Linked DNA regions of Homo sapiens. The protein of the gene in region 4 interacts with the protein of the main gene of each other region in a pairwise test. Each region holds a gene or a part of one and is shown on either strand. Other genes may lie near its edges. The genes, in order: FUCA2, VWCE, CEP63 and NUFIP2.

Region 1 (9,016 bases), on a different chromosome or scaffold from region 4:
CCAGCCCCATTCTCTTTTAATTCTTCACTTTTAAATCACAACATGTAGTATATGTCTTTACACATTGTCCCTTGTAACATAAGTGATTAGGGCTTCTAAAAGGAAGACTACATGCCTAAAACATAATATGCATCTATTATATTCAGTAGTAGAGAACACTTTGGAGGCACAGGACAGAAAGGGAGGCAAAAGTAAAATTAAAAAGATGCTGTTATTTTAATAAATGGACTCAACCTTCAACAATTACTTGCTATACGCATTCATTCTAAGCAATGGTATATTGACCCTAAACTGCGTAAGCAAGACTTCATGAGGAAAAGCACATCTACACATTTTAGATAAACACAGCAGTAACTATCCTCATGAAATAGATGCAACCCCCATTTTTGACCCACCTCCTGCTTTTTCTATCACCATTCCTTTCATATGAGTATTTCTACAGGATAAGCAAATCCATAATCAGCACTATATTTCCCAAGACGATCAGGAGACTCTGCTAAGAAGAAATAATTGAAGGGCATACTATGCGGCAGGCATGCTGTTTGCCTGCCCAAAAGTCGTATTTACGTAATTTCCCAGCTTCCACTACAGCTGCGACAGGGATGTGAGATCCATGCTGGCCAAGGGAACTTGAGGGAAAGCCAACTTTGGGGACTGTGGAAATGGTTTCCCTCCTAATGAAAAGAGACACTGGCCTTCCTGCCTTTGGGCAGGGTTGTGTGAAGTTATGGTGCCTGGCTGCCATCCTGTGACCATGAAGGGACAAGTCCCCAGGCTGAGGATGAAAGAAAGAGCCCGTGTCTTTGATTTCATCAATGAACCGACTACTCTAAATTTCCTGTTATGTGAGATAACAAGCCCCTATCATTATACCTTTTAGTTGGGTTTAAAATCCTTGAAGCATTTTTATTATTTATTTATTTATTATTGATTAATTGATTGGTTGAGACAGGGTCTTGCTCCATTACCCAGTTTGGAGTGCAGTGTCATGATCATACCACACCACAGCCTTGAACTCCTGGGCTCAAGCGATCGTCCCACCTCACCCTCCTGAGTATCTGGGACTACGGGCATTACATTTTAAATTGAACTGCAAAAGAGAAACTGGGACATTCAGAAAGTTGAACAAGAATAAGGAATTTCTCCTAGCATCATCTAATTTGAACCTGCACTGTCCCCTACAGTCTAGACTTGAATTTCATGCTGAGAGATGAAAAGAGGCATTTATGGTAAAGGTCTATCATTTATATTTGGTTTTTAATAGACATTTAAAACAGTCACATATACTCATCTATACTGTTGATTCCCCGAAAGTCAAATTGAGAGTGAGGAGCAGAGGATACAAAGGGAAATCACAGGTAATTAAAGAATCTTCCACAGGGTTAATGCATTTTCAGATCATCAGGAATCTGTTCTCTATTTTGTTTAGTATGAGAAGTATCTTTATTATTCTAGGTCAAAATAACCATGGGTTTATCTGTAGAAAATGAAGTTATTCATAGCAAAGAATAAAATGACTCAAAACTAGCTGTTTTATTTTGGCATAGTACTAGTCTCAGTCAAAAATGTCAAATCCTCTTTGGCACCAATATATCTTTACCTAATCTTCATGGTTGAACAAAATGATAATATAAGATACAATTTAGGGGGAAGAAAGTTGTTAATTATGTACCACACTAATCTAAAATATTTCCAAAACAAGCTCAAGATTCCTTACAGCCCAAAACATGCAAATAAAGATTTGTAACATCTTTTTGAAGTAGCTATGTTTTGGCATAAGAATAAAGAGTCTCTGTTTTAGAAGGTGAATTATTTAAAATATGAATAATTCTCCATAGCTTATCCAGTTTTATTTTTTACATCAATTGACCTACCAATAAGAAAGGTTACTGGTTGCAGGTAGTCAATTTCTTTGTCATGAAAGGGTTAAAATATGCTATTTTGGCACATTTTTAAAGGTAAAGAAACTCGAAAAATAGCAGGTGCATGAAGAGCACTTTGCCCTTTGTGCTGTTTCTTAGGAGAGAAGATGAAATTCCAGTATGAAAGGCACTCTGTACTAGAAGGAAAGGCAACATCCTAAGCTTCAAAGACAAGAAGTAGAATACTGTACAGAACTTGCTAAAATTTATTATTTAAGTCTCCCCACATAATTTAGTCACACAATGTCAATTTAATTCTTGGACCCAGCAGAGACCCTAACAGAATGGAGGTGTAATTTTTCTACCCCTAGAGTAGAGCATGGTACCATGTATACTATGTAATGTTAATATAATATATAGTTCATACTCTGTATTGTGTCTACTAAATATAGTATGTTAATTTGGATGTATACTATTTATGTAGTATATAGTTGATTCAAATAAATACTGTTTAATGATTCCGTTCTTTTACTTAAGAATATATTATGTGTCCCAAAGTCCTGGAATTACAGGTATGAGCCACCGCGGATCACCTGAGGTCAGGAGTTCAAGACCAGCCTGGCTAACATGGCAAAACCCCGTTTCTACTAAAAAATACAAAAAAATTGGCCAGGCATGGTGGCGTGCGCCTGTAGTCCCAGCTACTCAGGAGGCTAAGGCGCGAGAATCGTTTGAACCCGGGCGGCGAAGGTTGCAGTGAGCCGAGATGGTGCCACTGCACTCCAGCCTGGGTGACAGAATGAGACTATGTCTCAAAAAAAAAAAAAAAAGAATATATTATGTGTATGTTTCTATATATGCACACAAAATATTTCTGTTTTGAAGGACTTAATACTTGTAGCATTTAGTCAGAAAAGACATGTGCAACAGTTTAAGAAATTACATGCACATTTTCACATAGATCTCAAGGTAAAATCTAACGCACAGATTTTTGTGTAGCACCTTTCATACGGCAGTATGATAACTGGGTTGTGTTAAGAGTACCATTCTAGAACCTCTTTAAAAAGTTCCTAGAGCCACACATGGGTAACATGTTAACATTAAGTAGCCAATGGTGTTCAATGAACAGTCGTTTCACATACTCATGACTATGTTTTAACCATAACTTCATGGCAGAACGACTGTAAATTGGCAGGTAGCAGCAGAGCAACCATAGGCCATTGTGCCTGAGTCACCGCTCGTGTGATGCCCCTGCACAAACTGATGAATGTCTGTAGTAGCTCGATGTTGTAGTGTCATAACTACAGCTTAATATGCGCAACTATGAAGAAGCTGAGGAGTCAGGAGTATCTGAAAACTCTTACAGTCACACGGAAGAAAAATTCCCTGTTCATCCAGCAGAAGCACTTAGGCAGGAAACCACATATTCGACACCCGGAAGTGCGAAACGCGGGTAACGCAGTGGGAGGTGAAACCGACGAGGGTGCAGGCAGCACCAGGCGGCGAACCAGGCCCGCTGGGTGGTGGCTGGAGGCTGCGGGTGGGGACAAAAGCGCGGCAGACGAGACAAAAGGGAGCGCACTCACCAGAACCACTCGCTACCGAAGCTGGGCACGGAAAACACTCCCCAGTGGATGAAGATGCCGAACTTGGCCTGGTCAAACCACGCGGGCAGCTGGCGGGCGTCCAGGGACTCCCAGGTGGGGTCGAAGCGCGTGGCGCTGTGGGCAGGGCACGGCGGCGGCGGCAGCAGCAGCAACAGCAACAGCAGCAACGGGAACGCGAGCCTGGGGAGCTCCTGGGGCCGCATGTCCCGGCGCAGGCCGGCTGTCCTCTCTGCAGGCTCCCGCGGCCTCGGGAGCGCTGTTCTTCCGTCTCTGCCGCTGAGTATGCCGCGCCGCGGTCACCTGACCAAGTCGGACTTGGAAACCGGCCACCCTTCCCCCTCTGGGGCGGGAGTGGCCACTCTCCCGGGCGTTCCGAATGACCTCAGGAGGGCTGCATCGCTCAGCATAACTAAGGCCAGCATTACCCCAAAGCCAGCTGGGACGGCTTTGCTAAGGCTCTGTCCTCTTGAGGGGAAAATATGAGTCTGAGTCAGGGCCTTGTGGCCAGCGCCTCTGCCCTCAAGCAGACACGACCCTGACCAAGAAACTGCCCAAGAAGACAATGCCCCCAGCCCACCCTGGTGGCTGCTCCACACGTCCGAAGCGTGCACGAGAAGGTCAAGGCAGGAACTTCAGCCGGGTCTCGCCATGATGGAACATGGAAAGCAACCTAGATCCTTCTCGGCCTCTGTATCAGCTCCCAAGATCCTGCATGTTAGAACCGTGGTTGTCAACCTTGAATTTGTATCAGATGAAATTCCAAGAGCTTCAGATTCAGCAGTTAGGTTGGGGCCCAAGAATTTGCGTTTCTACCCAGTTCCTACTTCTAGGATGTTCTGATGTTGGGCCGGGCGCGGTGGCTCACTCCTGTAATCCCAACACTTTGGGAGGCCGAGGCGGGCGGATCACAAGGTCAGAAGATCGAGACCATCCTGACTAACACGGTGAAACCCCGTCCCTACTAAAAATACAAAAAATTAGCGGGACGTGGTGGCGGACGCCTGTAGTCCCAGTTACTCGGGAGGCTGAGGCAGGAGAATCGCTTGAACCCGGGAGGCAGTTACAGTGAGCAGAGACGGTGCCACTGCACTCCAGCCTGGGCTACAGAGTGAGACTCCATCTCAAAAAAAAAAAAAAAAAGAAAGAAAACAAAATTGTGATGTTTCTGATTGGTGGTCCAAACTTTCCTGAGAACCACTGCATTGAACAAGGAGATGATCTGAGACAGGTGAAACCAGTGGAATGAATGTTTAAGAAACCTGCAAGCTTGGGAAAAAAGGCCAGCAACTTGGAAAGATTAATCAAAAGGATATTTGGGAAGCTTATCACCTCCACCTCTTGTTTGGTTTGTTTGTTTGTTTGTTTGTTTGTTTGTTTGTTTGTTTTTGAGACAGAGTCTCGCTCTCTCGCCCAGGCTTGAGTGCAGTAACATGATCTAGGCTCACTGCAGCCTCTGCCTCCCGGGTTCAAGGATTCTCCTGCCTCAGCCTCCAGAGTAGCTGGGACTACAGGCACATGCCACTGTGCCAGACTAATTTTTGTATTTTTCTTTTCTTTTTTAGTAGAGACAGGGTTTCACCATGTTGGACAAGCTGGTCTCAAACTCTTGACCTCAGGTGATCTGCCCGCCTTGGCCTCCCAAAGTGCTAGAATTACAGGCATGAGCCACCAAGCCCAGCCTCTCCTCCACCTCGTAAGTGTTTTCAAAGTAAAGCCAGAATCCTCAACTGCTTCTGCCCCCATGAAATCATTACCCTTCAATGAGCCAATTCAAATGCTGCTTCTTTTGTGAAGCTTTCTGCCACCACCCTTCCCTCCCAGAATGTTGTACTTTCCCTGATCTGCTTCATAACACCTCCTTCCAAGCACACATAGGATTTCACGCATCCTCTAGTAGCTAGGTGGTACAGGTCTGATTTCCCATCAGACTGTGAGCTTTTTGAGGGCATTCATAATGACCTTCTTTTCTGTAGTGCCTACAATTACAGCAGAAAAGCAGCACTCAAAATGTTTGTTGAAGCTCTCCAGTGAACTGGGGTTCTAATTATTGAGTGAAGAACTTGACACTAAGTGGCTGTTGCCTGCATTATCCCAACCCATCTCTGCAGAGAGATGGGAGCAGCAGAGGGCGCTGTCACTGCAGGTGTAGGGGCATTTTTCCTCTCCATGACATGCCAGATGGCCCCCCGGGGCCACAGCTCCACCGTAAGAGTCCCCAATTTTGTTTTGTTTTTTTACAGTGAGGGTGTTCTAGAGGAAAGGGCTCAACGAATCCAATTGCAATAGCTCCAGTTTGTGATAAAGATGACAATTTTTTTTTATTTGAGACAGAGTCTGGTTCTGTTGCCCAGGCTGGAGTGCAGTGGCACAGTGTTGACTCACTGCCACCTCCACCCCCGGGGATTCAAGCAATTATCGTGTCTCAGCCTCCCGAGTAGCTGGGATTACAGACCCCAACCTCCAGCTAACTTTTGTATTTTCACCATGTTGGCAAGGCTGGTTTTGAACCCCTGATCTCAAGTCATCCTCCTGCCTCAGCCTCTCAAAGTGCTGGGATTACAGGCATGAGCCACGGTGCCTGGGCTGACAAATATTTATTATTGAGTTTGTGGAACCCAGAATGATCTAGGGCCTCAGTGGCCACTGAACCCTGGGGCACACTTGAACAAAAATATGGGCTTCTCAGCCACTATGCCTTGACATCCTCTCTAATCAGAAGTTTGTGTAATAAGTGCAAAAGACAATATTCACAGTGACAATGATACTGTGAACTGCCATAGGGAGAGTAGACATGACTGTGGTGACAATGCAGCGGCAGCAGGACCCTGTCCTCTCATAAGTGGGCATCCTTTCCCCATGTGAACACCACATAGCAGAAACGCCCATCTTCCAAAGCCCTTTTATCATGTTATGAATTATTTACACTTCCATATATTTCAGTTAAAGAGTGGTAATCAGATCTGTATGGATGCCACTTGGGTCATTTGTCATTTCACTTGAAGGCAAAGAAATGTTTTTAACTGGTAAGTACAACCTTATCATAAAAGTCTATTTTCTGTAAGAAATACTGAAAATATATTAAAGACCTCCCTTAGTGCCCTTCAGGACACATAAGAATCCTAATATACCAGGTTGGGAACCATTGCTATAGGATTTGAAAGGAATAGTAAATAGTATTATCTGAAAGTGAAGAGGAAGAAGAGATTCTACTTAAAAATATTTGTTAAATGACTGAAAGAAATAAATCTATGAAGTCGTTTAGAACATGGTCCTTTAGGGAAAGACCTGCCTGCTGTAGATTCCATTCACATTTTATACGTTTGTAATGCCTTACAAAGCTAGTCTTTGCACTTAAAGCTACTGCTAACTGAGCAATAGAATCACACCTCATAAGGCTTAAACTGTGTATTTAAAGGTTTTGATAGGGGATCCAGAAATCTGAGTGAAACCCTGGGTTCTGCAGGTACACATGGCTCATGTATAAGGCATTTGAAGGGCTTGTGGCCTTGATGGGGAACACTGTCAACTCTGATCCTGTTTGTCTGAGGTTACTTGGGGTACAAGATGAAGACAGAAGGGCGTGCCTCCCTTCTGGAACCATCACGGCCAGCAGCCGCATGTTGGGCAGCTGCTGATACTCAGGGTGCCCAGGCGGGAGATGGTGAGAGGCCAGCCCTAGCCAAATTCCTTGCTGCTGCCAGAGGAAGCAGTCTTGCCATGTGTGTCCACAGGGATAAGATTAGCTGCCGAGGTGGAGCTGATATCTGAGCGAGGCTCTCGAGGACACATTCTGGATAGATCTCCATATGGGAGTTGGATGACTGCCACCAGCCAGTCTTGGCAGTCCCCAGAATTCTTCTGAAGTGGACAGTGGAAGAAGTGAAACATTTGCCTGGCAGCTGGCATCAATGCAGTCTCTCTCTGGACATGCAGAAGAAAAGGTTCAAAAGGAACTGAACCCAAACCAGTCTTTATTTGGTAAATATCCCAGCTTCACGGTAGAAGAGCAGGCATGGGGGAAATAAAAGAAAACCCGCCTTTTTCAGGCCAGGGGGCAGGGAAGAGAAGCAGAGAGGAATAAAGGGAGGAGGCCCCGGGGTGTCAGCAGAGAGGGGAGAGCTGCCAGGCTGTGGCCCCACGCCAGCCTCTGCCATAGGGCTGTGTAATCCTGGGGAAGGCGTTCAACCTCTGTGCCTCAGTTTCTTCACCTATTAAATGTGAGTGATAATCGTGCATCTCCCTCCTAGGGGTGTTGTGAGAATTAAATCATGAGAAGTACATGTTAAGCCTCGTCTACGTGTGGACCAGTATTACCATGTGTGTGTTAGATCAATTCAGGGGAGCCTACAGAAAGCAGAGATTTTGTCCTGATTCCCATTTAACCTGAAGTCCTAAATGAGAATCAGGACAGAAATGTCCTGATTAGGACTCAGGCTAACTGGCAAGTGTAGCAAGGTACAGCCATGTTAGACAGATGGAGAGGCTGCTTTTTACCTTTCCTGGGGTGACCTTGATATTCGAGTGACACAAACAGGACCCAGAAGTAGCCAAGAACCTAACTGGAAATCTGTCCTGAGTGGTTCTCTGTGGCAGGGCCTCCTGTGCCAAGGACCTGGGGTTCACAGCCATTCCTCAGAGGACTCTTGCCTGTCTGTGGAAACTGAGTGGTGGGGGCAGGAGCCCGATACAGACCAGATCTTGAATTAGAGCAGCTTCAGGCTTCATCTGGGAACAGTGAAAGAACGGGTGTCAGCACTCCAGGACCAGAGAAGGCAGGGACGGCGTGTTCCTTCCCAGAAGCTGGAGAACCCCGCCCCTACTCCATGCCACCTTAGAGAGAAGCAGGGGAGGGGGAGGCATCTGCAATATTGAGCGTTGTTACCCAAAGAACAGCCTACATATTTGCTGAAGATGCTGTTTAATTGACAAGATTTGACTATGTTTAATGCAGGTAGAATAATTAAATTTGATCACCAACCACCCAGTGTGTGCATGGGGGACAGGAGCATGCTGTCTGCTGAGGCAAGTAGGGTGACTAGAAACAAGAACAAATTGCCACTTTTTCTCTGCACCAGGGTTGTCAGTGGCAGGTAATTTAATGATCCTAGTATGCAGCTAAGCATCAGAACACATGACACATTTGCCTTCTACTTCCGTCCTTCCCAATGTCTTCCGGGAAAAATGAATGATCTAATGAGTGGCTGTGCACGGAGGCCTAATTCAGGGAGATGAGGTCTCAGTCACACATTGAGTCTCCTTTCCAGTGGCCCTTATGGCTGAGGGAGACAGTGTCCCCTGGGCTGCACCAGTTGGAAGAGAAGGCGGAGTTTTCACAGCCCTGGTTAGAAGTGGGAGGGAAGAGGTCAGGTCCTCAAGAGGAAGAGGAAGCAAAAAAAGAAAGAAGGAACTGACAGAACTGAGATAGGGCTGGGCAAGAGGGAGAAAGGAGATGAAAGAAAAAAAGAAAGAAAAGAAAAGAAGGAAGGAAAAGAAAGAGAGAGAGAGAGAGAGAAGGAAGGAAGGAAGGAAGGAAGGAGAAGGAAAGAA
Region 2 (7,605 bases), on a different chromosome or scaffold from region 4:
CTGCAACTACGAGGGAAGGAAGGTGGCGAATGGCCAGGTGTTCACCTTGGATGATGAACCCTGCACCCGGTGCACGTGCCAGGTGAGCTGGGCCTGGGAACCCAGGAGCGGCCCCGCCAGAGGGCAGCTTCTTGCCTTTTGTCCCTTTGCAAAACATGGAGCCCTTTAGCCAGCATAAATCCATCCTCCTGCCATCCTCCGCCTTTAATTAACTGCCAGAATATCTTTGGTTTTGACCATCTCCTCCCTCTGTGGAAGTCCAGAGGGAGAAGTGGTTTCCCAAAGGGGGTCCTGCCATAGCTGGCTTTACCTGTTCTCCAGGCGAGGGCTCAGGCACTGCAGCCTCTGTCCTGGGATCTTTCCGTGGGTCCTGCTGCTGGTGCAAGAGGCCCTTGAGGGCACTGCCCAGGGCAGGCAAGATGCTCTGGGCTTCCTCATGGGGTTCCTTCTGCTTCCCCAGCTGGGAGAGGTGAGCTGTGAGAAGGTTCCCTGCCAGCGGGCCTGTGCCGACCCTGCCCTGCTTCCTGGGGACTGCTGCTCTTCCTGTCCAGGTAAGTGGGTCTCTGGGTCCTGGAGTTTCTCCGCCATCTTCTTCCATTTTACTTTTCTTCCCCGGTACATAGAACTTGTAAAGGGCTGGATAAGAGAAAGCCATGTTCAGAGAGGGAACACGGCTCGCGCAAGGTTGTACAGCTGTGCTGTGGCCTGCTGACCCTCATCCCGTGCTCATGATGCCACACACCATGATGTCTGTTTATTTGCACTCCCTTTTTCTTCTTCTTCTGCTTTTTTTTTTTTTTTTTTTTTTTTTTGAGACTGAGTCTCCCTCTGTCACCCAGGCTGGAGTGCAATGGCGCTATCTCACCTCACTGCAAGCTCCGCCTCCCGGGTTCACGCCATTCTCCTGCCTCAGCCTCCGGAGTAGCTGGGACTACAGGTGCCTGCCACTACGCCTGGCTAATTTTTTTGTATTTTTAGTAGAGATGGGGTTTCACCGTGTTAGCCAGGATGGTCTCGATCTCCTCACCTCGTGATCCGCCCGCCTCAGCCTCCCAAAGTGCTGGGATTACAGGCGTGAGCCACTGCGCCCGGCCTGCACTCCCTTTTTCTTCTTTATCCCCTTTCTTAACCTCTTCCTATGCTTTCTTCTTTATTTTAAATTACAACATGGGAACTGAGTCCGTTTTGCAGAAGAGTAATCTCTAATATGTGTTGAGCACCCACGGTGTGCCGGGACACCTCATGTGTCTACACCCCTGCAATACTCTTGTCATCCTCCTGTGCCAGGTGAGAAAACAGGCCCAGGCAGGTGAAGTGCTGTGCTCAAGATCACATAGCTGATTGGTAGTAGAGCCAGGGTTTCAGACTGGAGTCGATGCTTTTAGATAGGACAGTGGATTGATTCCCAAGAACTGACGCCACTGAACTCCAGCCTGGGCCACAGAGAGACACTGTCTCTAAACAACACAAAACACAACACAACACATATTTCTCCTGTCTAGCTGAGATTGTGTACCCTTTGACAATCATCTCCCCATTCCCCTCGCCCCTGCCAGCCTTCGTAACCACGATTCTATTCTCTGCTTCTTTGGCTTCAACCTTTTTAGATTCCACATAAAACTGAGATTTTGCAATAGTTGTCTTTGTGTGTCTGGCTTATTTCGCTTAGCATAATGTCCTCCAGTTTCATCCATGTTGTTGCAAATGACAGAATTTCCTTTTTTTTTTTTTTTTGAGGATTCTCACTCTGTCACCCAGGCTGGAGTGCAGTGGCGCGATCTCAGCTCACTGCAACCTTTGCCTCCCAGGTTCAAGTGGTTCTCTTGCCTCAGCCTCCTGAGTAGCTGGGATTATAGGCGCACACCACCATGCCCGGCTAATTTTTGTATTTTTAGTAGAGACAAGGTTTCGCCATGTTCGTCAGGCTGTTCTCGAACTTCTGACCTCAAGTGATCCACCCACCTCGGCCTCCCAAGGCACTGGGATTACAGGCGTGAGCCTGTAATTTCCTTCTTTTAAAAGGCTAAATAGTATTCCATTCTGGATAAAGAAATGTGGTATATGCACACAATGAAGTACTATTGATGGATGCTTAGGTTGGTTCCATAGCTTGGCTATTGTGAATAGTGTCACAGTGAACACAGGACTGCAGCTCTCTTCCCCAAACTGACTTTAAATCTTTTGGATAAATACTCAGCAGTGGGATTGCTGGATCTATTTTATGTTTTTTAAACTTCTAGGAAGACAGGGAATTTTTTTCACTGATGGTGGCCTGAATTCCCTTTTTTATAAAATATTTGTTTAACTCCTTTGACCTTTTGAAGAGTATGTTCTGTTTTCGGGGGCAGCTCTTCAGATCTGTGGATGATGAGCTTTTAGGGCGGGTGGCGCCAGGAATATCCATTGAGCCTTCAAATCCATCATGTTGGGGACATTATAGATTGTACTTCATTGTAACCACCACAAACCTCTCTGCATGCTAGTGGATATTAGTCCCCTGACTGTCTAGAGACTGATTGCTAGCTAATGTGCCAGGCAGCATACTGAGCATTTTATACCTTATTTAAATGTATTACCTCATTTAAATGTTCATGGAGTGTTCCAGCGTGGCTGCTATGTTATCTCCATTTTGCAGGTGGGGAAATGGAGGCTCAAAGAAGTTAAGTTTCTAGTTGGTGTGTAAGACTTAAGCCTAGGTCTCTCTTATTTCCTATCCTGTCCTCTTTCCCACCGTGCCCTCCTACCTCCACCTGGGGAAACTGAGACCCAAAGAGGTGACCTCCAGGTCTGGCGTGGTGGCTCACGCCTGTAATCCCAGCACTTTGGGAGGCTGATGTGGGTGGATCGCCTGAGGCCAGGAGTTTGAGACCAGCCTGTCCAACATGGTGAAACCCTGTCTCTACTAAAAATAGAAAAATTAGCCGGGCATGTTGGTGCACACCTGTAATCTCAGCTATTTGGGAGGCTGAGGCAGGAGAATTGCTTGAACCTGGGAGATGGAGGTTGCAGTGAGCTGAGACTGCGCCCTGCCCTCCAGCCTGGGCAACAGAGCAAGACTCTGTCTCAAACAAAAACAAAAACCAAGAGGTAACCTCCAGAGCCCAGCTCCTTCTCCTGAAGCACACTATGTTTACCACCTACCTCTTATTAACAAGAGCTCCCTTTAAGGAAAAACAACTTTTTATTGAAGTAGAATATGAATTGCTTTCTTTTGATGATTTTTTTTTTTTTTTGAGACAGGGTCTCACTCTGTTGCCCAGGCTGGAGTGCAGTGGTGCGATCACAGCTCACTGCAGCCTCGACCCCTGGGCTCAAGCAATCCTCCTACTTCAGTCTCACAGGTAGCTGGGACTACAGGTGCATGCCACCCTGCCTGGCTAATTTTTTGTTTCTATTTTTGTTTTATTTCCAAGCCCATGAAGTGATAAACACTTGGTTAATTTTTTTACTTTTTTTTTTTTAGAGACAAGGTCTTGCTATGTTGCCCAGGCTGGTCCCAACTCCTGGACTCAAGCAATCGTCCCGCCTTGGCCTCCCAAACTGTTGAGATTACAGGCATGAGCCACTGAGCCCAGCCTCTTTTGATGATTTTTTTAAAAGTATAACAGCTTTCTAAAGATAAAGTTCATATGTCATACAATTCACACATTTAAAGTGTATGATTCAGTCATTTTAAGCATATTTTTAGAGTTACGCAACCATCTATTAATATGAATAGTTGATTTTTAAAATATAATCATTCCAGTTTTTTATGTGCTTGACAACGTCTGATTTTTCCTTGATCATACCTTCGATACTCTTTCTTCTTTTTTTTTTTTGAGATGGAGTCTCTCTCTGTTGTCCAGGCTGGAGTGCAGTGGCATGATCTTGGCTCACTGCAACCTCCACCTCCCGGTTTCCAGCAACTCTCCTGCCTCAGCCTACCAAGTGGCTGGACTACAGGCACCACCATACCTTGCTAATTTTTGTATTTTTAGTAGAGATGGAGTTTCACCATGTTGGCCAGGATGGTCTCAAGCTCCTGACCTCAAGTGATCTGTCCACCATGGCCTCCCAAAATGCTGGGATTATGGGCATGAGCCACTGCGCCTGGGCCGATACTTTTTCTTTTTTTGCTTCTTCACTCTTCATTTTCTTTTTGCTGAGCTTCTTCCTTCTTTCACAGATGATTCCTGACTTTCTGGTGGTTTATCTTAATGATTTTTTGACTTTACAATGATGTGAAACCATCAAAATTTTGCTGTATTTTGTATTTTGAATTTTGATCTTTTCCTGGGTTATCAATATGTGACACATGGATATTCAGCACTTTATTAAAAAATAGGGATTTACTTAGATGATTTTGCCCAACTGTGGGCCAGTATAAGGGTTCTGAACACGTGTAAGGTCAGCCAGGGTAAGCTGTGGTGTTCAGGAAGTGAGCTGTATTAAATGCATTTTTGCTGGGCACCGTGGATCACACTTATAACCCCGGCACTTTGGGAGGCTAAGGCAGGAGGATCACTTGAGCTCAGGAGTTTGAGACCAGCCTGGGTAACAAAGTAGGATCCTGTCTCTACAAAAATAAAATAGAACAGAACAGAACAGAACAGAACAGAATGCCAGGTGTGGTAGCATGTGACTGTGGCCCCAGCAAGTAGGACAGCCGAGATGGGAGGATCGCTTGAGCCCAGGAGGTTGAGGGTACAGTGAGCCATGTTTGCACCACTGCACTCCAGCCTGGACAAGTGAGTGAGAACCTGTCCCCCCCACCCCAAAAAAAAGCCTTTTTTTAAATTTTGGTGAAACGGAGTCCTGCTCTGTCTCCCAGGCTGGAGTGCAGTGGCACGATCTCAGCTCACTGCAACCTCTGCCACCTGGGTTCAAGTGATTCTCGCGCCTCAGCCTCCCGAGTAGCTGGGACTACAGGCACGCGCCACCACGTCCGGTTAAGTTTTGTATTTTTAGTAGAGATGGGGTTTCACCATGTTGACCAGGCTGGTTTTGAACTCCTGACCTCAGGTGATCCGCCGCCTCGGCTTCTCAAAGTGTTGGGATTACAGGCGTGAGCCACTGCGCTTGGTCAGAAATGCATTTTTGATTTACAGGTTTATTGGGACGTGACCCCATCGTAAGTCAAGGAGCATCTGTGTTTATTTTCTCCTTGTGTACTGAGCCTTTATGATATGCCAGGCCCTAGGCTGAGACTTTTTAAAAAATTCTTCAAAGAAACTATTTTTTAGAGCAGTTTGATGATCATGGCAAAATTGAGTGGAAAGTACAGAGAGTTCCCATATGCCTCAGACTCCACATGATACAGCGTTGCCCCCTATTAGCACCCCATACCAGCGTGGCATGTTTGTTATAATCGGTGATCCTACACTGACACTGACATGTCATTGACATCCAATGTCTATAGTTCACATTGAGGTTTAGGCTGAGACTCTCCGTGCACCCTTTCATTCACACTCAGTCCTTACTGCTGTGCCCATTTTACAGATGAGGAAACAGAGGCCCAGGAGAGTTGCATGCCTTGCGTGAGGTCACACAGCTAACTGCCTGCCTCCCTCCGTTCATGGCTCCTTCAGTCTTCCCTTCCTGGAGGCAGGAGCTGGCTGGTCCTCACCAGGTGTGCTGAGGCCCCTCTGAGGACAGAGCTTGGGTGTCCCTGGTATACCTTGTCCCAGAGCCACCTTGGCCACTGGAGAGAGCCATTGTGCATCTCGTTTCACCCTCGTCTCTCTAGATTCCCTGTCTCCTCTGGAAGAAAAGCAGGGGCTCTCCCCTCACGGAAATGTGGCATTCAGCAAAGCTGGTCGGAGCCTGCATGGAGACACTGAGGCCCCTGTCAACTGTAGCTCCTGTCCTGGGCCCCCGACAGCATCACCCTCGAGGCCGGTGCTTCATCTCCTCCAGCTCCTTTTAAGAACGAACTTGATGAAAACACAGACTTTACCTACAAGCCCGGCAGGAGCTCATGGTCCACACTCACTCGCTTTGGGGCTGACAGCCACTTTCCCAGGGGAGCCTGGGGCCTCCCCTCGACTCTCACCAGGGCCTTCGACCCCTCCAGGAGCCCCCACTCTACCTCTAGCTTCCCCAGGGGCTCCTCAGCCACCTCCTGTGACTCCAGAGCGCTCGTTCTCAGCCTCTGGGGCCCAGATAGTGTCCAGGTGGCCTCCTCTGCCTGGCACCCTCCTGACGGAAGCTTCAGCACTTTCCATGATGGACCCCAGCCCCTCGAAGACCCCCATCACCCTCCTCGGGCCTCGCGTGCTTTCTCCCACCACCTCTAGACTCTCCACAGCCCTTGCAGCCACCACCCACCCTGGCCCCCAGCAGCCCCCAGTGGGGGCTTCTCGGGGGGAAGAGTCCACCATGTAAGGAGGTCACTGTGTCCGGGAGACTCTGGAGAGAGGACCTCTGCCAGTGGCCCAGGGTGTGTGCAGGGCAGCTCCAAGGATGAACCTGGTGGGGATGCCTGGGCTCCCTCCTGCAGGGGCCCTGGTGAGGATGGAAGACCCCCAAGGCTGGATGTAACCTTGTTCCCAAGAAGTGTTTGGAATGTGCTGTAAGAATGGAGGAAGTCGTTTCCACTGTCAGCATCCTCCCTGGACCGCGTGGCTGGCTCATCTTTTGAGAAGGGTTGGGACTGCCAAGTTCTCCTGGAGGAAGAGTTGCGTCCGGCTGGGATTCCACTCACTGGGACTGTACCGCCAGGTGTCATGCGTCTCTCTGAGGTTTCCTGATTAAAGGTTGTCTCGGTTTCCCCATGCTGCACTGCTCATTCACCGCTTACCTGTGGGAAGGTGGGAAACGTGACCCCAAGCCCACAGGTGGTAAGTGAGCATCCACCTTTACCCCACTGCTGGGGAGAAAAGCTGGCACCAAATTGTGACTGGGCTGGGGAAGGGTCTCCTGTAAGCACTTGGCGGCCTTTTATATTGGGAGACTTCTTTTTATTTTTTTCCCCAAGATCATGATTTTCTTTTCTGTTTTCTTTTTTCTTTTTTTCACTTTTATTTTAAGTTCAGGGGTACATGTGCAGGTTTATTATATAGTTAAACTCGTGTCACAGGGGTTTGTCATACAGATTATATTATTTCATCACCCAGGGATTAAGCTTAGTACCCATTAGTTATTTTTCCTAAGTCTCTCCCTCTACCCTCCCTCCACCCTTCCATAGACCCCAGTGTGTGCTTTTCGTGTCTATGTGTCCATGTGTTCTCATCATTTAGCTCCCACTTACAAATGAGAACATGCGGTATTTGGTTTTCTCTTCCTGCGTAACTTTGCTAAGGATGATGGCCTCCAGCTCCATTCATGTTCCTGCAAAGGACATTATCTCATTCTTTTTTATGGCTGCATAGTATGTACACCATGGAATACCATACAGACACTGGGGGGCTTCCACAGTGAGAAGGGAAAAGATGATGGAGAGGACTTGCTTCTGGGAAGGAACCTCTGAGACGAAATGACAGACCAGCAGTTTCTTTTTTGAGATGGAGTTTCGCTCTTGTTGCCCAGGCTAGAGTGCAATGGCAAGGTCTTGGCTCACTGCAACCTCTGCCTCCTGGGTTCAAGCGGCTCTCCTGCCTCAGCCTCCTGAGTATCTGGGATTACAGG
Region 3 (7,549 bases), on a different chromosome or scaffold from region 4:
TAATAAATGTTTTGCATTTAATATCAAGGAGTTTTAGACCTTCCCCTATCAACTACTGCCTTACGTTCTTTTTGTAAGAGGAGTGCAAAAGTTCTTCTGACTGGATGATTGTCAAATAATTGAACCTGGTCTTAATGGGCAACATAAAATTCCCAAATTCTAGTTCCTCACAGAGAGGGAAAAAAAAAAAGATGTGAATTGTATGTCTGAATTATCAAAATTGCACTGCGGAGAAATAGCTTTTACAAAAGATTGGTTTAAAGCAGTCTATCATCCCTCTAAATTTTCCCTTTTCAGGCCATGAGAGCTTTACGCAATCATGTTTGTGGCCCTCTCAGAACAGTTTCCTCTGAATTTGGATGTCAGCCTTATGCCATCAACCCACAGTGAAGCATACTGTGGGGGGAGCTGTGCAGATTATTATTACCAGTTATGAAAATGTTGGACTTCTCTTCTGGATACTCACATACTTTACAAAACGCTTATTCAAACACACAAAAAAAATCTGTGCTTTTCTTAAGTCTATGATTTTTTTTTTTTTTTATCTTATGGGCACCATAAAACTTTTAGGTAAATGTTTTCTCCTCTGCTTTTCCCCCTCTGAAGCTCAGAGGTAACTTGGCTGCCTTCCTCTAGCAACTGGACTGGACAACTAGATTCATTAGTGAATCAATGTTTACAGCCCTCATTTTCCCTCTGCCCCGATTCTGTTTGTTACTTTTTGATGCATTTATACTATTTCAAACTGTTTTGGGACAAGCTGACACATTTCTAACTTTTTCTACATTTCAGTGCTGTTCATGACAACTGTTTGCTTAACGTATGTTCTCATGCCATAGAGCTTATTTTATAATTATCTTTCTTATCTGCAACTTTTAGGTACTGGACTCGAGTGTTTTGCAAACAGAAAATCATCACCCACAGTTTACCAGGTGTTATGTGTATGTAAGAGAGAGAAGGTAAGAATTGTTTGGGTTTAAGCAGATGTCACAGAAACAGAGTGTTGTAGTATTTTTTCTACACTTGTTGAGATCAAATGAGTCTGCAAGGGAAGGTAATGTCCAGCCCACAGTGGGAAGTCAACTTTGCCCTCTTCAGCTAAAATCTGCGTAGGAATCCAGATGAAAATTCATGGGAATCCAGGACAAGAAGAATGAGATGACTTGCCCAATAAAACATTATCTGTAAACACCAGATGTAGACTACAAATCCCTAATCTTTTCATCTCATTTGGGTACCCTGATCACGGACAGATTTTGGAAAATGTGTGTTAAGACACTAACTCAGATTTAGTCTTGACACATTTTAATATTTGGTATTAATATATCTTTTTGAAAAATGGTGAGACATTAAATTACAGTCAAATGTTCTGACAAATTTGGACAACCCATTAACTATTAGATACTTCAGCTTTAAAAAACAGTATAATTTAAGGAAATACATAGTACCTCATGATTCCTTAAGTATTTCCGGTGACTACAGAGTCTGTCATTGTTCCTCCTAGTCAACACGTAGTACAAACGTTTCAGAAACGGGCTGCAGTCTACAGATTTTAAGCTGAAGCTTGGGACTGTCTAAAACTCAGAAATCTCCTGAATGTAACAGCAATGCACATAGGTACAGTACTTAAAACTGCAAAGCCCTTTCAAATATATATTTTCAGTAAATCTTCTCGACCCCATTAGATATTATTTCAGTTTTACTGATAAATACAATGAAGCCTTGAATGGTAGTGATTTTCATCCACCCAATATTTGCTTAGGATCTGTTATGTGTTAGGCAGCATGCTGACTGAGGATGTAGGCAGGACTTAGCCCCTGAAAGACAGAAATCAAAGCGGATAGCAAAGTCTGGTCAGAGCCACACACAGGGTGCCATGACAGCAATGAGGAGAAACGTTCCCTGACATGGGTCAGGGGATATGGGAAAGCTTTGCCAAGCCAGATAAAGTAGCCAAGTAAAGGGGGAGTTTTAGGAGCACATGACAGGGTGTGGGAAGAGGAGACAAACTGAAGGACAGCATGCACACCAACACAAAAGAAACGATGTGGTGCACCTCAGGAATGGCATTTTCCATTGGTTCAAACTAGCTGAGCCTCTCCTAAGTGTTGGGCTTGTGCTGGGTGATGAGGATCCCACCATGAACCAGAGAAGCAAAGTCCTTGCCCTCAAGGAGTTTTAATTCTAAAGACAGAAATAGACAGTACAAACATAAATCAAGTAATGAAATGATTTCAGATAGTAGTGAGCACTATGAAGCAAGTAACACAGGCCAATGAGCTAGAGAAATGGGGAGAAACAGGTTTGGGAGGCAGCAATCAAAGAAGGCTTGCTCAGGAGAGGATGCCAGAGTGCAGGTCTGCAAGGGGGAAAACGCCAATCAAAGGTGAGGTAAGAGAAAGGGAATATTCAGGGTAAACTGCAAATGAAAGACCCGAACAGGTTAAAGCTTGCTGCACTCAATAAACAGAAAGGACGCCAGCATGGGTGGAGCACAGTAAAGGATGATGCAATGGGTGATTAGGCCCAGATTATTGACACTCTGTAGGCTATACTAATTCATTTGGATTTTATTCTGAGTGCAGTAAGAAGCCTTGGGGCTGGGTGCAGTGGCTCACGCTTATAACCCAGCACTTTGGGAAGCTCAGGCGGGTGGATCACTTGAGGTCAGGAGTTCGAGATCAGCCTGACCAACATGGTGAAACCCTGTTCCTACTAAAAATACAAAAATTAGCTGGGCCTGGTGGCATGCGCCTGTAATCCCAGCTACTCGGGAAGCTAAGGCAGGAGAATCACTTGAGCCCGGGAGGTGGAGGTTGCAGAGAGCCGAGATCCTGCCACTGTACTGCAGCTTGGGCGACAGAGTGAGACTCTGTCTCAATAAAAAAAAAAAGAGAAGCCTTGGAAGAGTCTGAAGGGAAGCAGTGGTGACACTGTTTCATTTACATTTCTAAAGGATAACTCCAGAAGCTCCCTGAATTACTGGTGTGAGTACTATCAGTTAGGAGGCTACTGCCAGAATCAGGGTGAGAGAGAAGTAGTCTGGATCAGGTGGTAGAAGTGCAGGAGGGAAACGGTTGGGTCTGAGATAAGATTCTGGGGGAAGAAATGACAGGACCTCCCAAATGACTGGATATGCGGATGTGGGTAAGGAAGGAATTATAAGTAACTCCTAGGAACTGGCAAACATAATGCTATGTCCTGATATGGAATCTTAGCAAGAGGGAGAATAAAGAGTTCTCTCTTGGAAACAAGATGTTTGTCAGATATCCAAGTGAAGACATCGCATAAGCAGCTAGGTATCTAAGACAGCAGCTCTGGGGAGAGGTCAAGATTAGTAATAAATGTAAGGGTCACTGGCCTATAGGTGGTATTAAGAGCTTGAGAATGGAATGGAAACTTCTAGGGAAGAGAATGCTGAGGGAGAAAACCCATGACAGAGCTCTAGGGGGCCCTCTGACTTAGAGGTTAGAAGAGGAAAAGCCATGAGATGGAGTGGAGGATGAGGTAGAGAGGAAACCAGAAGTTCCAGGTCACAGAAGCCAAGAGAGAGTCCAACTGTGCTGAATGATGCTCAGACACTGATTAGGTCACTGGTGAACTCAAGAGCAAGAAAGCAGTCTGGGGATGGAAGTGGTGTTGGAGAGGGTTAGGAAGAGAACTACGGTGGGGCGGGGTGAGGAACTGGAAAGAGTCACTGCAGACAACTCTTTCCAGAAGTGTTTGGGTGAAGGGAAGCAAACATACAGAGCAGTAAAAGAGAGGCATTAAAAAAAACTGAGGTTTTATTTAAAAAGGGGAAATAACAGGATGTTTTACGCTGATGGGAAAGATCCACTACAGAAAGAGGGTTCACAGAGGCCACACCCTTGAGCTGGCAAGTACACTACACTGACCTTTCTCATCTGTAACTGCACATTCTAGTTCCTTTGCTAGATCTATTTCCTGTGATCCTCAGATGCTGGCATCTTTCAGGGCCCCAAACCCAGCCTCCTGCTCCTCTCTCTCTCCACAGCCTCCCTGGTGGATCTTATCAACTCCCATCGTTTCAAATGCCTGCGGCACATCAACATCCAGATCTTTGTCTCCCATCTAAACTTGTCCTCAGCAGTGCAGACGATGAACATTTATTTCCAATGGATATTCCATGGGCACCGTGCATGACAGCCAGTCCCTTGCCCTCCCTGCCTCTCTCCTCTGCATGAGTGTTGAGCAAGAGAGGACTGCTTGATAAGGTTCTTTAGCACACCCCCCCCTTATTCACTACCAGCCTGACTTTACACACTACCAGCCCCTTGGCTAGGAGGGGCTACCAGCCCAGTAAATAACAAGCCCCGTTGGCTGGTAAGTGGCAAAACCAGTCTATCGATCCAGGTATGTTTGACCCCTAAATCCATGCTTCTACACATTTCCCCTAAAGAAAGTTCCTGCAGTTACTTTATTTTCAACATGTATCATAAAATCCTTATTTCAATTAGTACATAGCTATTCACATTTAAGTCAGCAAGGTAAGTATCACTTTATGATAATAAATATTCGTATGAGAAAAAAGTCTAGCAAAGTGGTTTATTCTTTCAACTTATTGCTGGAAGAAGTCCTTTAAACAAACCAGTGCAGAGAAAATGCCTATCAAAAGTATCAGTTTTTCAGCTTTCTTCACCACTGCTTTAGATGTATCATTTTTATAATTTTATCTCTTCATGTTTTTAAAGAGCTGCTACTTCAGATGACAGTAACTCTTTGGTGTTTATTTTTATTTCCAAGATAGTGATTTTTTTAAGAGGCTACTTTAAGGCTGTGAATTGTCTCACTGTCTTTTCACTCTCTCTTTTTAGTTCTTCAATATGGGCATCCAAGCGCTCTAGAATGTGATGAGACCTCAGTTCCTCCTCTTCCAAAAATCTGGTAGCTATTGAACCAAGGGGAGATACAGGCAAGGAACACTGGAAGAGACACAAATTTTGACATGTGTAAATAAGTAGAATATTATATTTCTAAGATACACTGTTCATGACATTTTCTAACTAGCAATATTAAAAGGTGATTTTTTTCCTCTGAAGATACTTTTTTGGTTTTCATCCTAATGACAAGAGCAATAAAAGAACAAAAATCAGTAAGTTCTGCAAAAATTAACACAGATCTCTCCGTTTCTGACCCAAATTGTAACAATGTAAAGTATCATATATTAGTTATTGGTCTGAAGAATGTTTCAATTTAGACTTATATATGCTTCCATAGTTAATGCCTATTATTTCAAACTCACTTTAAAAACCTAAGTATGTCACTTTTATTTTAAAGCACAAAAATTTAACAAAAATAAATTAGATGCCAGCTAAAATCAATTATTTTTTCTCCTCCAAATTTTCAGTCCACAGTCCCTTATCTGAAACCCTTGAGGCTAGTGATATTTCAGAATTCTGATTTTAGAAAGGTAACATAGAACATATGCCATATGCAGTCAATACTCATTCACAATAGCAGTAGTTGTGTTCTATAAAGTCACCCAAAACACTGAATTAGCAAACACAGAATTTTTGGCCCAGGGAAAATACACACATACAACAAATACACACACACACACATACACACATACCCCACACAGAGAGCATAATCCTAAATCCTAGAACAAATCATTCTGGTAGATTCTGTATTTTTTATTTCACATGAGAGACATGAGGTTCAGAAGTGGTAACTCTCCTGAGGCTGCCCCACTAACTGGTGCTGAAGCTGGGATTCAGACTCTATCCAGCTGGCATGGAGCTGAGCTTCTTTCCCTACACTGCGCTGTCCCGTCCATCTCCACCCTATGGTCACCTCCGCATAAGCAGGGGCAACAAGGCAGAGTGCTGCCTACTTCGACCTTGGCTGGGATTGTGCAAGTCGGTCACTCAAATTTTTTGTCACTCTGCATATGTCCACGAATTACTGTGGAAGTGCTGCGCATACTGATTTGGGAGTTACAGATAAAGTTTAGGGAGTAGACAAATTCACAAATACAAAATCTGTGAATAATGAGGATCAACTGTATTACCCCAGTGGAGTCTGAGGGAACATCCCATCACCAAACACACTGATATTTCTGAAGCAAAACACATGGATACTCACACTAAGTGGAATAGAGAAAGTCTATACATACTAACACATCAGTTCAGGCCAGGGAAAGTTCTGGTGCCAAAAAAATTTTGCTGCTAAACTTAGGAAGAAAGTGAAGTGAGGACTTATTTTGAAAAATAAAAGAAAACCTTTCCATGGACTTGGTAGCACATTAATAAGTCAGAAATACTGCACTTTCACATCTATATGGCCACAGCTGGTGACAGGAAATGAAGGGCCCATGGCAAGTGCTTTGGTGCAGAAGGCAAAAAGATGGTGCAGCCTGCCCAGCAATGGAAGGAGCAAGGGACCGGCATGGTGTCCAAGGCACATTCTGCCCTGAGGGCCACCATCTGTGACCCCCAAGCCATGCTCTGCACACATCAGAGGCACAGCCTTCCTCCCCCTCCACACTCCCTTTCTCCTTTCCAGCAGTTCCTCTTTTCCTCCTTCACTGCCTGTGCCTCAGGACTATCTTGGCATCCAGAGACAGTTCTTGAACTAACCATTCCAGAAGAAAATTGAGCATCACTGAAAAGGGCAAGAAGGGAATTTCCAATAAGGGTTAAAGACAAATGAATACGTATAACATATTTCAGAACATTTTGAAAAGTAGTCTTGGCCGAAAGTGTCTTCACAAGCAAAAACTGTATGACAGGGATACCTAAGAATAATGAAGAGTACTTATGATAAAAGAATCAGTAAGGAAAAAAAAATCACCTTCTTCACCCTTAAAATAAAAAATCAAAGCAAACTTAAAAAACTAACAAATTACTAAGATCAGAAAGTTTCCATACCGAAGATATAAACTCTTCTTGGTCATTCATACTCTCAGACATAGTGTCAGAAAAATTGGCTTCATTTGTATCTAGCGCTGAAGGCAAAGAATGAGTTTTACATAGAGAGTAGGAAGTCAAAGACCTGGTGGAGCTGCAAGGGCTGATTTGAGGACTCAGGGGGCTTAGCACCCTAGACATGGGGTTTATACTATCCGACGCTTGTCCTCTTGGAGAATGAAGATCTGTTTTGTAGTGCTCAGTCTTTATTCCATCATGTCTGTGCTGGCCATGGGTTGGCCTGGATGGTAGATTAGAAAACAAAACAAATAAAAAATTGTAGCAACTTTTCTCTTTCCAACAGAAATGTAGGAAATTTGCTTAATAGCCTAACTAATAAGGCTACAATTTACAAAATGAGCAACCTACTCAGATCAGAAAGAGATTTCTTTCATTCATTCAGGCCCCAAATATCCAATTCCAACTACCAAGTCCCTGCCCTCACACACTTATGGTATAGCAAGAAAGACAAACAAGCTGCCAGAGTAATCTAGTGTGGTTAGTGCTGGGACAGGAGAAGTGCTGTGCACATAAGAAGGCACCTAACCTAACTAGGGGATTGGGTGGGTGTAGGAGTGGAGGTGAGGGTGTCAGCAAAGGCTTTGGGTAGGAAAACATGT
Region 4 (8,074 bases):
TTAAAAACTGTTAGGGACTATATAACTAGATTTTTTAGCATTAGATCTTGTTCAAAAGATGAGAAAATACTACCATATTATGGCTGCATAAGGCAATATTACTGTTGAGATTGAAAAATTGTATCTCATCGGTCAGGTTAATATACTCTTGCCAGACTTCTCTCTACATGTGGAAGCAACCGCTGAACCATTCAAGGTGGTATTCCTCCAAATATTTCTTGTCTTGGAAGGGGTGGATAAAGAGGAGGAAACTGGAATTAGCAGTTTTGACAGAATGTAAACAGTTTGGGGCGAGTGTATGATTTGGTCACAGTACTGTTGCTTTGACATGCATAATGCTAATAACTAAGAAAACATTACAATATTTTTGAAATTTATCTGTAACATGTTGAGGTAGGCTTTGGTAATCCATTGCTCACAAACCTAAAGAGGAACAGTTTTTTTTAATCCAGAAGAGGGCGCAAGAGAAGGCCAAATGTGTTGAGTAATTTGTTTCTAATTGAAAAGCTAGATGTATCAGGACTCAAGTTTTGCTGAGTCTTTTGGAAGTAGGGTTAGTATAAGCAGCCCTAAATAAAGCGCTAGGAATCCTTTAATTTCTTAAATTTATTCTATAATGTTTACATTTTTCTTAAATATCTACTATTTAAAAAGAAAATTTCTTTCCAGCATACTTCATACATATCACAAGGTTGTCATGAGAAAAACTTTATGTAGTTAAACAAGATTTTCTTTTCTTTTTTTTTTTTTTTTTTGTTATTAAAACTTGCGGGCGGGAGCACAGTGGCTTCTAAGCCGTTTTTTCATTGTTTGGTGATTTCCAGTATCTGAGTCGCTACATACTAGTAATCTTAGGAAGAATTATTCTTGTTAGCTTTGGTTCAGCTCAGTTTGGAGATTGGATTTTTTGCTATTTCAGATTGCTCATCTTTAATTGAAATCTGAAAAGTTGTGACTAATGGGCCCAAGGATACAAACCTTTGTTTAACCTGTTAGCATATTAAATGATACAGGTAGGTCTTATCCAGAGTTAGGTAAGGAGATAAAGTTATATCTGTTAAAAATGATGAGAAGAGCCTTTATTTAGGAACTTTATGCTTTTCTTTCTTTCTTTCTTTCTTTCTTTTTTTTTTTTTTGAGACACAGCCTTACTCTGTGGCCCAGGCTGGAGTGCAGTGCAGTGGCATGATCTCGGCTCACTGCAACCTCTGCCTCCTGGATTCAAGCGAATCTCCTGTCTCAGCTGGGATTACAGGCATATGCTACCATGCCCAGCTGATTTTTTTTTTCTTTTTTTTAGTAGAGATAGGACTTCACCATGTTGGCCGGACTGGTCTCAAACTCCTGACCTCAAGTGATCCACCTGCCTGGGATCCTAAAGTGCTGGGATTACAGATGTGAGCCACTGTGCCTGGGATTTTTCTGAGGAAAAAAGCTTTTAGAAAACATCCTAAGCAATAATCTCTTTCTTGCTGTTTCATAGTTAAAATTGTGCCACCAAAAATTTGATTTGATTGGCTATCATAGCTTTTCCAGCAGCCAAAAAATTTTTAAAAATGTAACCCTGTGGAATCTAAGAACTCTTAAGAGTTCTAAGAAATCTAAGAGGCCGGTGTGGTGGCTCTCACCTGTAATCCCAGCACTTTGGGAGGCCCAGGCGGGCAGATCACTTGAGGTCAGGAGTTCGAAACCAGCCAGGCCAACGTGGCGGAACTGGGCATCGTGGTGCATGCCTGTAATCCCAGCTACTCTGGAGGCTGAGTCAGGAGAATCTGGGAGGCGGAGGTTGTGGTGAGCTGGGATCACATCACTGCACTTCAACCTGGGCCACAGAGCGAGAATCTGTCTCAAAAAAAGAAAAAAAATAACTGTTATAAGATGTATTCTCTCGTGGTACAAGTTTTGTGCCAGTCTGTTTTAGGAATGATTATGCCTTGAGTATGTTTTCTTGGGTTACTTTAATACAGGAGAAGAAAATGCCTTTATTTGTTCAGTTTTAGTATTTGTACTTTTTTTTCTAATGTAGAATGAGTAAGTCCTGTTGTGAATCTAATAGACTTCTCCATTAATTTATTTTGGAACAATGGTTCTCAGACTTATAAAAATGGCAGTATTCCTATTAGACTCCTCACTTCCTGCTGCCTTAAATGTGTGTGGAGTGTCCTTCTATTGTGTATCTTTCTTTTTTCTTTTTTTTGGAAGTGGAATTTTGCTCTTGTTGCCCAGGCTGGGGTGCAGTGGCCCAATGTGGGCTCACTGCAACCTCTGCCTCCCGGATTCAAGCCATTCTCCTGCCTCAGCCTCCCAAGTAGCTGGGATTACAGGCGTGCACCACCATGCCTGGCCAATTTTGTATTTTTAGTAGAGACGGGGTTTCACCATGTTGGTCAGGCTGGTCCTGAACTCCTGACCTCAAATGATCCACCCACCTTGGCCTCCCAAAGTGCTGGGATTATAGGCATTAGCCACTGCACCCGGCCTGTATATCTGTTTCTAATGACTTGACCTCAAGATGCTTTTATGAACATTTCATAAAAAGGTAGATAACTAATAGCACCATTTTGTTACAGTGGAAAACTATTTGAATCACCTATAATAGAATTGACTTTTTATGGTAGTTGAAGGTTTTTTTTTCTTTTCTTCTTGAAAGAGGGTCTCACTTTGTCACTCAAGCTAGAAGGCAGTTGTGCCATCTCAGTGCATGTTCACTGCAGCCTCGACCTCCTGGGTTCAAGCTATCCTCCTCCCTCAGCTCCCCCAGCTGGGAGTATAGGCACATGCCCCACGCCCAGCTAATTTTTGTATTTGTAGTAGAGACAGGGTTTCTCCATGTTGCCCAGGCTGGTCTTGAACTCCAGCAGTCTGCCTGCCTTGGCCCTCCCAAAGTGCTATGTTTACAGACATGATCCACTGGCAGTTGAAGACTTTTAATTAAACCTGAATACCATAACACTAAAAAATTGGATTCTTTTTATTGTTGTTTTGTTAGTAAATATTTTCTCATTGCATCTTTTGAGTCAAGGCAGTATTACATAGTGATAGGAAACCATGGATTGCAGATAGACTGGCGGTCAGATTTCCAGTTCTGTCACTTTGACTTGGGCAATTTACTTCATCTCTCTTAAAGTCTTTTTATCTAAATGTAAAATGAAGAAAGTATGTTTTATAAAGGTTGGAAACATTGGTACGTAGATATTTTGGTTTCACGTATTAACAATATCCAATATCTGGGAAATGTCAAAATGAAATTTAAGAATACTTTAGAAAAAGTTGACAAGTGTTAGATATTTGTCTGATAGATGCCTTGGAAACTGCTGATAGTGACTACCAGCTATTTATGGTTTTGTAGAAATGAAGTCTTTAATTTCCTTGTAATAATTACTGTTTCAATAAAACTTGATTTTTGCCCAGAGGGCATCTCTGCTCTGAATTGTAAAGAAAATTTTAGGCCGGGCGTGTGGCTCACGCCTGTAATCCTAGCACTTCGGGAGGCCGAGACGGGCGGATCACAAGGTCAGGAGATCGAGACCATCCTGGCTAACATGGTGAAATCCTGTCTCTACTAAAAATACAAAAAGAATTAGCCGAGCGTGGTGGTGGGCGCCTGTAGTCCCAGCTACTCTGGAGGCTGAGGCAGGAGAATGGCGTGAGCCCGGGAGGTGGAGCTTACAGTGAGCGGAGATAGCGCCACTGCACTCCAGCCTGGGCGACAGAGTGAGACTCCGTCTTGAAAAAAGAAAATTTTATAACAGCCTTGTGAGAGTGATGGGTAGATTGATTCTGTTAGATGAGAGGTATTTGGCATACTGCTTAAGAGGTCTTGTCTTCTCTGGCCTCAGACTTTGGTTTGAATCTTCGCTGAGTTCTACCTCTTGCTTTGCTTAGCAGTAGGTTGCATTTCCTAGTCTGTAAAATGGGGCTGACAGGTGTCTTCTCATAGAGATGTGAAATAATATAAAGCTACAGCTCATAGCATAGTGTCTAGCATACAGTAAATAGTTCTTAAATGTTAGGTATTAGTGTAATTTACATGTTGTGATTTTTTTTTTTAATCCTTTTTTTCCCCTCCCCTAGGCTATGGTGAACTAAACGGTAATGCTGGAGAAAGAGAAATATCTTTAAAGAACCTGAGTTCTGATGAAGCCACCAACCCTATTTCCAGGGTCCTCAATGGCAACCAGCAAGTTGTAGACACTAGCCTGAAGCAGACTGTAAAGGCCAACACCTTTGGGAAAGCAGGAATTAAAACCAAGAATTTCATTCAGAAAAACAGTATGGACAAAAAGAATGGGAAGTCTTATGAAAATAAATCTGGAGAGAATCAGTCTGTAGATAAGTCTGATACTATACCAATTCCAAATGGTGTGGTAACAAATAATTCTGGTTATATTACTAATGGTTATATGGGTAAAGGAGCAGATAATGATGGTAGTGGATCTGAGAGCGGATATACAACTCCTAAAAAAAGGAAAGCTAGGCGCAATAGTGCCAAGGGTTGTGAAAACCTTAATATAGTGCAGGACAAAATAATGCAACAAGAGACCAGTGTCCCAACCTTAAAACAGGGACTTGAAACTTTCAAGCCTGACTATAGTGAACAAAAGGGAAATCGAGTAGATGGTTCGAAGCCCATTTGGAAGTATGAAACTGGGCCTGGAGGAACAAGTCGAGGAAAACCTGCTGTGGGTGATATGCTTCGGAAAAGCTCAGATAGTAAACCTGGTGTGAGCAGCAAAAAGTTTGATGATCGGCCCAAAGGAAAGCATGCTTCAGCTGTTGCCTCCAAAGAGGACTCGTGGACCCTATTTAAACCACCCCCAGTTTTTCCAGTGGACAATAGCAGTGCTAAAATAGTTCCTAAAATAAGTTATGCAAGCAAAGTTAAGGAAAACCTCAACAAAACTATACAGAACTCTTCTGTGTCACCAACTTCATCTTCATCATCTTCATCATCTACCGGGGAAACTCAGACCCAATCATCAAGTCGCTTATCCCAGGTCCCTATGTCAGCGCTGAAATCTGTTACTTCTGCCAACTTTTCTAATGGGCCTGTTTTAGCAGGGACTGATGGAAATGTTTATCCTCCAGGGGGTCAGCCACTGCTAACTACTGCTGCTAATACTCTAACACCCATCTCTTCTGGGACAGATTCAGTTCTCCAGGACATGAGTCTAACTTCAGCAGCTGTTGAACAAATTAAGACTAGCCTTTTTATCTATCCTTCAAATATGCAAACTATGCTGTTGAGCACAGCACAAGTGGATCTGCCCTCTCAGACAGATCAGCAAAACCTGGGGGATATCTTCCAGAATCAGTGGGGTTTATCATTTATAAATGAGCCCAGTGCTGGCCCTGAGACTGTTACTGGGAAGTCATCAGAGCATAAAGTGATGGAGGTGACATTTCAAGGAGAATATCCTGCTACTTTGGTTTCACAGGGTGCTGAAATAATTCCCTCAGGAACTGAGCATCCTGTGTTTCCCAAGGCTTACGAGCTGGAGAAACGGACTAGTCCTCAAGTTCTGGGTAGCATTCTAAAATCTGGGACTACTAGTGAGAGTGGAGCCTTATCCTTGGAACCCAGTCATATAGGTGACCTGCAGAAAGCAGACACCAGTAGTCAAGGTGCTTTAGTGTTTCTCTCAAAGGACTACGAGATAGAAAGTCAAAATCCTCTGGCCTCTCCTACGAACACTTTGTTAGGCTCTGCCAAAGAACAGAGATACCAGAGAGGCCTAGAAAGGAATGATAGCTGGGGTTCTTTTGACCTGAGGGCTGCTATTGTATATCACACTAAAGGTAACTCATTTGTTTCCTATACAAAGATTTTTATTGGCCAATTTAGTATATTGTTTATATTAAGAGAATTTTAAGAGAATTAGTTGTTCATATTAAGAGTATTTTAAGAGAATGACAATGTGGATAAGCAGCTGGTGTCAAACTAATTCAGGGTCCTTGGAACTAGTATGATTAAAATTTAGAAGAAATGTTCACTTTTCCAACTTAAAAGGATTTTTAAAAATACAAACATAATTGACCTACCTGGTTCAAAGAACAGAAGTGAGGAGAACTTGCTTAAAGGTATTGATGTTATATTTTCTCTTGACTGAGTGCTTGAAAAAAAATTTTATTGAACATATGTTCTCCTTCCGTGGCTTTTTTGTCTTTGCTTTTTTGTTTTGTTTTGTGTTTTTTTTCTTTGAGATGGAGTCTCACTCTCTTGCCAGGCTGGAGTGCAGTGGCGTAATCCCGGCCCACTGCAACCTCCACCTCCCAGGTTCAAGTGATTCTCCTGCCTCAGCCTCCTGAGTAGCTGAGATTACAGGCACGCACCACCATGCCCGGCTAATTTTTGTATTTTTAGTAGAGACGGGGTTTCACCATGTTGGCCAGGATGGTCTTGACCTCTTGACCTTGTGATCCACCCACGGCCTCCCAAAGTGCTGGGATTACAGGTGTGAGCCACCACACCCATTTGCTTATTTGTTTTTGAGACAGAGTCTCACTCTCTCACCCAGGCTGGAGTGCAGTGGTGTGATCTTGGCTCACTGCAACCTCCGCCTCTTGGGTTCAGGTGATTCTCCTGCCTCAGCCTCCCGAGTAGCTGGGATTACAGCCATGCGCCACCACGCCCAGCTAATTTTTGTATTTTCAGTAGACACGGGTTTCCCCGTGTTGGCCAGGCTGATCTCAAACTTCTGACCTCGTGATCCGCCCGCCTCTGCTTCCCAAAGTGCTGTGATTACAGGTGTGAGCCACCGTGCCCAGCCTCTCCTTTGCTTTTTATATCATATGCGTCTTTAATAGTGAGCTCATTTAATAGTTCTAATTTGATTAAAATGAGTAGAAGCACTGTTTTTGAAGAGGAGACTGATAAGTCTTGGAGTAATGGATGCCAGTTTGTAACTGGAAAATAAGTTAGACAAATCACAGTGTCAAGTATGATTAGCATAGTTGAGACCAGGCTCTTGGGATTCTCCTTTTCATAGCCCTAAAGCCCAAGTTTAAAGGGAACCAGGTATCTTTCAAGTTTCACGCTAATAACTTTCTTTTCTTTTTTTTCTTTTTTTTTTTTTTTTTTTTTGAGATGGAGTCTTACTCTTGTCACCCAGGCTGGAGTGCAGTGGCGCAATCTTGACTCACTGCAACCTCCGCCTCCCGGGTTCAAGTGATTCTCCTGCCTCAGCCTCCCACGTAGCTGGGATTACAGGTGCCCACCACCACGCCTGGCTAATTTTTATATTTTTAGTAGAGATGAGGTTTCACCGTGTTGGCCAGGCTGGTCTCAAACTCCTGACCTCAGGTGATCCACCCACCTGGGTCTCCCAAAGTGCTGGGATTACAGGTGTGAGCCACCGTGCCAGGCCTCATGTTAATCACTTTCTTAGAATGTGGTTTGTTTGTGTCTTAAAGAAAAATTCGCTGTATGGCATAACTGTAATCTAAATCCTTAGAGCAAATAATGAGGTTTAACGATGATGTTTATATCCTTTTGCTTTTGAGAACAGTGGGTTTCAGTCTTCCCATCTTTCCTACCTCTTCCTCCTTTCTCTAACAGAAATGTATGCTCCATGCATGCATGTACACACTTAATACATAGTGCACATTCCCATTTTAACAGTGGCTCATTTAGGCAGTGACTTACAATTGCAGGGAAAGGGGACCATACCAGATTGTGGGAATTGGGTAATTACCATATTCTCTCTGGAAGAAATACTGCCTCAGGGATGAATAACAAAGTGATTTGTGACTTCTAAGCAAATTTCCTAGTCTGCATACGTTTCCTTATCTGCAAGCTGGAAGACATTGAGTATAATAAATAGATGTCCTTTTAATATCATTTTACTTCCTTAAAAATGGAAGTAGTAGAATTGCTTAATGGAAGTTTAGGAATCCTCACAGATAACATTTACCTGATTTCACTTATTCTCCAGCTCTGCTCTTTGAAGGTAAATACAGGAGTTGGTTGTTTTTAGCAATGTTAGGGCAAAAAGATAAATGCTTCGTTTTTTAAGACATGTGTTATACATTAGTTAACCTCTGCCAGGAGAGTTGGGTTTTTTGGTATTGTTTT

The links.
Region 1: the proteins of NUFIP2 (region 4) and FUCA2 interact in binary tests that used the Homo sapiens proteins (3 or more experiments, as listed by UniProt).
Region 2: the proteins of NUFIP2 (region 4) and VWCE interact in binary tests that used the Homo sapiens proteins (3 or more experiments, as listed by UniProt).
Region 3: the proteins of NUFIP2 (region 4) and CEP63 interact in binary tests that used the Homo sapiens proteins (3 or more experiments, as listed by UniProt).

The regions. Positions count from the first base shown.
Region 1 is NC_000006.12:143,507,963-143,516,978, forward strand, and holds the start of FUCA2 (plasma alpha-L-fucosidase precursor), read right to left. Parts: upstream 3,759-9,016; 5' UTR 3,673-3,758; coding exon 3,449-3,672; intron 1-3,448. UniProt on the Homo sapiens protein: Alpha-L-fucosidase is responsible for hydrolyzing the alpha-1,6-linked fucose joined to the reducing-end N-acetylglucosamine of the carbohydrate moieties of glycoproteins.
Region 2 is NC_000011.10:61,257,433-61,265,037, reverse strand, and holds the end of VWCE (von Willebrand factor C and EGF domain-containing protein precursor), read left to right. Parts: coding exon 1-82; intron 83-460; coding exon 461-551; intron 552-5,725; coding exon 5,726-6,363; 3' UTR 6,364-6,752; downstream 6,753-7,605.
Region 3 is NC_000003.12:134,558,771-134,566,319, reverse strand, and holds the end of CEP63 (centrosomal protein of 63 kDa), read right to left. Parts: intron 7,171-7,549; coding exon 6,891-7,170; intron 4,944-6,890; coding exon 4,785-4,943; 3' UTR 1,289-4,784; downstream 1-1,288. UniProt on the Homo sapiens protein: Required for normal spindle assembly.
Region 4 is NC_000017.11:29,283,717-29,291,790, reverse strand, and holds part of NUFIP2 (FMR1-interacting protein NUFIP2), read left to right. Parts: intron 1-756; exon of another isoform or gene 757-1,013; intron 1,014-4,074; coding exon 4,075-5,799; intron 5,800-8,074. UniProt on the Homo sapiens protein: Binds RNA.